Homo sapiens: one gene and its partner. The protein of the gene in region 1 purifies or fractionates together with the protein of each later gene. This does not show direct contact. Each region holds a gene or a part of one and is shown in the gene's direction. Other genes may lie near its edges. The genes, in order: SELE and CEACAM5.

Region 1 (3,820 bases):
AATTTCCTACATGCTGAAAACTAAGTAGCGCTTACACTTTACATTCATTGTTGACTTTTAAGCAAGTTTTGGAAGTTTTCCAGTAGATTTTTCTGAAACTCTGCCTGTGTACCTAACATTTGCAGTGGTAAAATGTTCAAGCCTGGCAGTTCCGGGAAAGATCAACATGAGCTGCAGTGGGGAGCCCGTGTTTGGCACTGTGTGCAAGTTCGCCTGTCCTGAAGGATGGACGCTCAATGGCTCTGCAGCTCGGACATGTGGAGCCACAGGACACTGGTCTGGCCTGCTACCTACCTGTGAAGGTGATGCATTGATTGATGGTGGTTGTCTGGTGATTAAAAAGAAAAAGGGGGAGCTATCTTGTTACAGTAATCAACTATTCATTATATCCAAACCAGAAAGTTCGCCCAGGTTGACAAGTTGTGAATATTAAGTTGTATGGGGATAGAGAAAAAACAGAAGTTGCATGTTGATGGAAAGGGTAGAATTCTGACAACTGGAAAAAGGAGACAGAGAGAGGAGAGGAGAAAGGGGAAATGGAAAACAAGAGGGAGTGAGAGCAAGAGAGCAAGCAAGTGCAGTGTTTATTAACCAAGGTGTGGTGTGGTATTGTGAACGAGCTTGGCAAGTTAGAGTTCTGCCTGCCAATGGTGGAAATAGCTTCAAAGGTGGCTTGGAGCAGATCTCAAAGGCCTGTAATGCCACATCTCTGCTTCTTGTATTAAACTAGATAGCTCTTCTGCTCCTAGTAATGAATGTACAGAAAAAAGGCCAAAGGGACAGGACGGAGAGACTTTAACATCAATTCTTCCTCATGACCTTTCTTCGTCTCTTACTTCCTTAGCTCCCACTGAGTCCAACATTCCCTTGGTAGCTGGACTTTCTGCTGCTGGACTCTCCCTCCTGACATTAGCACCATTTCTCCTCTGGCTTCGGAAATGCTTACGGAAAGGTGAGGAAGTTTATGAATGTACTTCAAAAATGTTTTTGAAAATACATTTCTTTCTCATTGATAAGTCATGGTCTTGCTTACTGATTTAAACAATAATTAGAATCTGGATAAAATGCAGTATAATTAAGCAGAAGTATTAAGAAAAGAGTTAGTAGTACAACTCAGTGTGGGAAGTGTTTCAGGAAATAAAAATGTTAGTCGTGCCTAATATTGTACAACTCCAGGGGGTGCTATTCATGTTGAATTATATGATGCCTCCCGGAATTGTGCAATGGAACTGCCATGATGAGCACTCTAAGGAAAATGGATAAAATTCTTCCTAAGGAGATTTATTTGGAGTACAGGCTTAAATTTGAGAGTCTCTCATAAGGAATATGGAAGCACATCTGACTACACTCATGGTTTGTTTGGCTTACATGTTTAAGAGTACTTAAAACATTTTTGAGTTAAGTTCTGACGTTTACAAAATAGGAAATCTCACATTTAAATTAAGACTTTGGACTTCTCATGAAAAATTGGGAGCTGAATTGGGCAAGATGACCCCGTAGCTATTTGCTGGCATTAGGAAGCTGCTATGCCCTTTGGATGGCTGTGCACTTTGCATTTTACCCTAGATGCCACAGAGCCATGCTTGTGCTCTGATTATTACAGAGGCCCTGAAGCATCGAGTTTGCAACACTTGATGAATTAAGTCATATTGTATCTGGATTTAATATATCCTTAAAAGTCATTTAGTCTGAATTAATGGTTGTTTGTCTTTTCTTTTGCAGCAAAGAAATTTGTTCCTGCCAGGTAAGTTGCATTCTTATACAAAGCATGCCATTGAACATTCCACATATTTTTCTCTCTTCATGTTGGAAGACAGTGCTTTACCTAGTGTTCTCATGTATTCCACAGCAGCTGCCAAAGCCTTGAATCAGATGGAAGCTACCAAAAGCCTTCTTACATCCTTTAAGTTCAAAAGAATCAGGTAAGACTTGTAAATCACAAATGGTTATGAGAGAGGTATCTTCTCTACATGCTCTGTTTCTCCTTGAACCCTCCAAACTTGCCAATATCTTAGGGAGGGAGCAGGGGAGAAATCATCACCTGGGTATTGTTCTGGAAAGTTGCTTTATTTTTTGTAGAAGGAGAGGAAAGAAACGGATCTAGCTTTATTGTGTAATTTCATTTATGATAGATAATAATAATGAAGATAGCTGACCCTTACATTGCACTTATTATATTCTGGGAATTTTTCTAAGCTAGGAACTCTGAGATAGGGGCTGGTACTATATTTCTTATCTTTTCTTTTTACTTTTTTTTTTTTTAATTTTGAGATGGAGTCTCATTCTGTTGCCTAGACTGGAGTGCAGTGGCATGATCTTGGCTCACTGCAACCTCCACCTCCTGCGTTCAAGCAATTCTCCTGCCTCAGCCTCCTGAGTAGCTGGGATTACAGGTGCCTGCCACCACACCCAGCTAATTTTTGTATTTTTAGTAGAGATTTTGTATTTTTTCGTCATGTTGGCCAGGCTGATCTTGAACTCCTGATCCACCCGCCTTGGCCTCTCAAAGTGCTGGGATTACAGGCGTGAGCCACTGGGCCTGGCCTGTTACTTTATTTCTTATCACACAGATGAAGAAAATGAGACAGAGAAGTTAAGTAAATTGTCTGAAATCTCAAAGCTAGTAAGTGGTGTAGCCAGGATTCAAACTCTGGCAGTCTGGTTCTAAAATTTGTGTTCTTAACTACTCCGACCTGCTTTGAGAGAATTTGGAAAGGTCAAGTCCCTCTGAATACTTTTTAAAAAATTAAAATAACTTTTTTTGTGTGTGCGGTTTTAAGTTTACAGAAAAATTGAGCAGAAAGCACAAAGAGTTCCAACATATCTCCCCACCACCCCTTCAATTCCCCCTGTTATTAACATCTTATATTAGTGTTACAACTGATGGGCCAATATTGATACATTATTATTCATTAATGTCCACAGGCTACATTAGAATTCACTCTGTGCTGTGTTGTATATTCTGTAGGTTTTGACAGAGGTATAATATGTAGACATCATCACTGTCCTAACTGAATAGAATTCGATGTTCCTACATGGTCTATCCTAGTGAGAGTGTCTGTGTTAGAAGGTACATTTTGTTGTCATGATCAGTATGCAGAATATTAAGTGTTCTGATGACATGCATGTTTATATTTACAGAAACAGGTGCATCTGGGGAACTAGAGGGATACACTGAAGTTAACAGAGACAGATAACTCTCCTCGGGTCTCTGGCCCTTCTTGCCTACTATGCCAGATGCCTTTATGGCTGAAACCGCAACACCCATCACCACTTCAATAGATCAAAGTCCAGCAGGCAAGGACGGCCTTCAACTGAAAAGACTCAGTGTTCCCTTTCCTACTCTCAGGATCAAGAAAGTGTTGGCTAATGAAGGGAAAGGATATTTTCTTCCAAGCAAAGGTGAAGAGACCAAGACTCTGAAATCTCAGAATTCCTTTTCTAACTCTCCCTTGCTCGCTGTAAAATCTTGGCACAGAAACACAATATTTTGTGGCTTTCTTTCTTTTGCCCTTCACAGTGTTTCGACAGCTGATTACACAGTTGCTGTCATAAGAATGAATAATAATTATCCAGAGTTTAGAGGAAAAAAATGACTAAAAATATTATAACTTAAAAAAATGACAGATGTTGAATGCCCACAGGCAAATGCATGGAGGGTTGTTAATGGTGCAAATCCTACTGAATGCTCTGTGCGAGGGTTACTATGCACAATTTAATCACTTTCATCCCTATGGGATTCAGTGCTTCTTAAAGAGTTCTTAAGGATTGTGATATTTTTACTTGCATTGAATATATTATAATCTTCCATACTTCTTCA
Region 2 (3,820 bases), on another chromosome or scaffold:
CAAACCCGTGGAGGACAAGGATGCTGTGGCCTTCACCTGTGAACCTGAGACTCAGGACGCAACCTACCTGTGGTGGGTAAACAATCAGAGCCTCCCGGTCAGTCCCAGGCTGCAGCTGTCCAATGGCAACAGGACCCTCACTCTATTCAATGTCACAAGAAATGACACAGCAAGCTACAAATGTGAAACCCAGAACCCAGTGAGTGCCAGGCGCAGTGATTCAGTCATCCTGAATGTCCTCTGTGAGTATATCTGCTCCTCTCTGGCCCAGGCTGCCAGCCCAAATCCACAGGGCCAGAGGCAGGATTTCTCAGTCCCTCTCAGGTTCAAGTACACAGACCCTCAACCCTGGACATCCAGACTGTCTGTGACTTTCTGCCCCAGAAAAACCTGGGCAGACCAAGTCTTGACCAAGAATAGGAGGGGAGGGGCTGCTTCTGTCCTGGGAGGCTCAGGGTCCACACCCTATGATGGGAGAAACAGGTGAATATCTCAGACTCAGGCTCAGTAGATACAAGAGGGGTTTGGCTGAGACTTTAGGATTGTGATTCAGCTTAGAGGGACACTGTGGTCCTTCCATAGACCAGGAACTTCCACTTCCCTCTGACAATATCACCTGTGGCTTTATTTTGTTTGCTCCAGATGGCCCGGATGCCCCCACCATTTCCCCTCTAAACACATCTTACAGATCAGGGGAAAATCTGAACCTCTCCTGCCACGCAGCCTCTAACCCACCTGCACAGTACTCTTGGTTTGTCAATGGGACTTTCCAGCAATCCACCCAAGAGCTCTTTATCCCCAACATCACTGTGAATAATAGTGGATCCTATACGTGCCAAGCCCATAACTCAGACACTGGCCTCAATAGGACCACAGTCACGACGATCACAGTCTATGGTAAGTGGATCCACGAAGCACTGACATCATGTTTTGAGGTGGAGTCTGTCTGGTTTTCAAACAAGAGCCAGGAAGACATTTTCTATCCCAGCCTGTGTCCAGTGGGCACAAGCAAATCCCAGATTCTCCCACTGAACCTCCCCAATATGTCTCTACAGACTCTTTTCTTCTTGTTCTGATTTCTCATGGCGGGCCCCAGGTCCAGCTTGGAATGTGGGGAGGAGGCTCCCTCAGCCCCACAGCCCTGTGTAGTGGAGGAAGCTTCACAGAGCGGGAAGGAGCAAGGGTTCTCAAGGTCAAGTTGCTTCTCTCTGTCACCAATGTGTCCCTTTCTGTCACCTCTTTGTGTTCTTTTGCCTACTCCATGAGCTACAAGCAACATTCAAGGCTTTGAAACAAGCTCATACTTTTTTCCCAAATGAGAGAAGGAAGCCCCTTGGGTGAGGGAGACACAGCTCAGACTGCTCCCTGCTCTGCTCTGGGCTCCCCTGGGTGACTGGCCTTGCCTGACTCCACCTAGGTGGGAACGAGGTGTGTGGAGAAGGAGCCCGGGTGGTCTGTCCTGAATTCGGCTAAATCAAGCTGCCAATCAACACCAAAGCTTCCCTTCGTCCCAGTCAGGCTGCAGGAAAATGGAAAGAGAGGGAGCCTCAGGGCAGACTCCTGAGCTGCGTCCTGGCTCTGATGTCACCAGCTATATGAGGCTGTGGGCACAGCACATGGGACACAGCACAGGGGACAGCAAGTGACCCACACTTGGAGAAATCAGGAGATTCACCACAGGGGCTCTGCACGGCAGGGAATGGCAGTGTCAAAAATCGTGTGTTTATACAGATGGTAACAGTACATATCTAACACAAACTTACCATCTTAACTTTTCTACACATGCAGTTCAGTGGTATTAAATATATTCCCCTTGTTCTGCTTCCATCACCACCATCTACCCACAGGACTCTTTTCTTCCTCCCAAAATGAAACTCTGTTCCCATCAAACTCCTGGGCAGAGCTGCCCCATCTATGGCCCACAGTCTGATCCCTGACTTGTCACCTCTAGACATGCTCCTAGTCTCCTGCACTATTTCTGCTCAAACATCCATCTCCATCATCACCTATCTCTAGGATGTCCTTAAATAGCAAAGCCTCAGAGCAAACACAACTTGGCTGGGTGGTGTGGGACTGTGCAGCTGGAAGAAACGCAGCTCCTTCAAATTCCAGGTGAGGACCCCAATGGGCCAGGCAGCCAGCCAGTCAGGAAAGGACCAGAAGTGCTGGGGGCTGTGACCCCCAGCCCTGTGTCTGTCCACAACCCAATGCTACTGCCCAATTCACACTTGAGAAAGTCTGTGCTTCTCCCACACAAAACAGCCAGCCTCATGGTCTCTGAGCCCTCAGATCATTGTGCATCTGTCTTGTGACGCACACACACCTGCCATGAGCTTTTAAGGACTCAGTTGGGCTGAGAGGTGGGAGATGCCAACTCTGATTGATAGATGCCCGTGGAGGAATCACAGGTGCCACACAGGGCAATCTTCTCTCTGTTATCTGCACAGCAGAGCCACCCAAACCCTTCATCACCAGCAACAACTCCAACCCCGTGGAGGATGAGGATGCTGTAGCCTTAACCTGTGAACCTGAGATTCAGAACACAACCTACCTGTGGTGGGTAAATAATCAGAGCCTCCCGGTCAGTCCCAGGCTGCAGCTGTCCAATGACAACAGGACCCTCACTCTACTCAGTGTCACAAGGAATGATGTAGGACCCTATGAGTGTGGAATCCAGAACGAATTAAGTGTTGACCACAGCGACCCAGTCATCCTGAATGTCCTCTGTGAGTATCTTCTGTTCCTCTGTGGCTCAGGCTGCCAGCCCAAATCCACATAGCCAAAGTCCAGGCCTCTCAGTCCCTCTCAGGCCCAAGGACAGAGACTTTTACCCCTGGACATCCAGGCTGGCCCTACCCCCAGCAAATCCATGCAGGCCCAGTCCTGACCAAGAATAGGAGGGGAGGGTCTGCTCCTGTCCTGTAACACTCGGGATCCACAGCTAGTGATGGGAGAAACAGATGAATGTCTCAGACTCTGGCTAATTGGATACAGTAGGGGTTTGGTTAGGACTTCAGGATTGTGACTTGGCTCAGGGGGACACTGTTGCCCTTTCACAGACCAGGAGCTTCCCCTTTGCTCTGATGACATTCACCTGTGGCCCTATTCTCTTTGCTCCAGATGGCCCAGACGACCCCACCATTTCCCCCTCATACACCTATTACCGTCCAGGGGTGAACCTCAGCCTCTCCTGCCATGCAGCCTCTAACCCACCTGCACAGTATTCTTGGCTGATTGATGGGAACATCCAGCAACACACACAAGAGCTCTTTATCTCCAACATCACTGAGAAGAACAGCGGACTCTATACCTGCCAGGCCAATAACTCAGCCAGTGGCCACAGCAGGACTACAGTCAAGACAATCACAGTCTCTGGTAAGTGGATCCCTGGACCGTTAGCAATATGTTCTGGAGCGGAATCTGTCTGGTTTTCAGAAAAGAGCCAGGAAGAAATTTTCTTTCCTAGTATGCATCCAATGGGCACAAGCAATCCCAAATTCAATCCTGAGCACTCCCAATTTGTCTCTACAAACACTCTTCCCCTTGTTTTTCTGATTTCTCATGGCTGACCTTGTGTCCACCCTGAGAAATGTGGGGAGGGGTCTTCATCAGCCCTGAGCCCTATGTAGTGGAAGGGGCTTCACAGAGGGGGAAGCAAGAAGGGTCCTCAAGGTCAAGTTGCTCCTCTCTGTCACCAATATGTCCCTTTCTGACACCACTTTGTGTTCTTTTACCTAATCCATGAGCTACAAGGAACAACTGAGGCTTTGAAACAAGCTCACACTTTTTCCCCAAATGAGAGGAGGATGCCCCTTGGATG

Evidence for each region.
Region 2: the proteins of SELE (region 1) and CEACAM5 purify together in Homo sapiens (co-immunoprecipitation; one study listed by IntAct). This does not show direct contact.

What each region holds. Positions count from the first base shown.
Region 1 is NC_000001.11:169,723,831-169,727,650, reverse strand, and holds part of SELE (E-selectin precursor), read left to right. Parts: intron 1-125; coding exon 126-302; intron 303-844; coding exon 845-952; intron 953-1,722; coding exon 1,723-1,744; intron 1,745-1,849; coding exon 1,850-1,907; 3' UTR 1,908-1,922; intron 1,923-3,141; 3' UTR 3,142-3,820. UniProt on the Homo sapiens protein: Cell-surface glycoprotein having a role in immunoadhesion. Mediates in the adhesion of blood neutrophils in cytokine-activated endothelium through interaction with SELPLG/PSGL1. May have a role in capillary morphogenesis.
Region 2 is NC_000019.10:41,715,008-41,718,827, forward strand, and holds part of CEACAM5 (cell adhesion molecule CEACAM5 isoform 1 preproprotein), read left to right. Parts: coding exon 1-242; intron 243-642; coding exon 643-897; intron 898-2,447; coding exon 2,448-2,726; intron 2,727-3,120; coding exon 3,121-3,375; intron 3,376-3,820. UniProt on the Homo sapiens protein: Cell surface glycoprotein that plays a role in cell adhesion, intracellular signaling and tumor progression. Mediates homophilic and heterophilic cell adhesion with other carcinoembryonic antigen-related cell adhesion molecules, such as CEACAM6.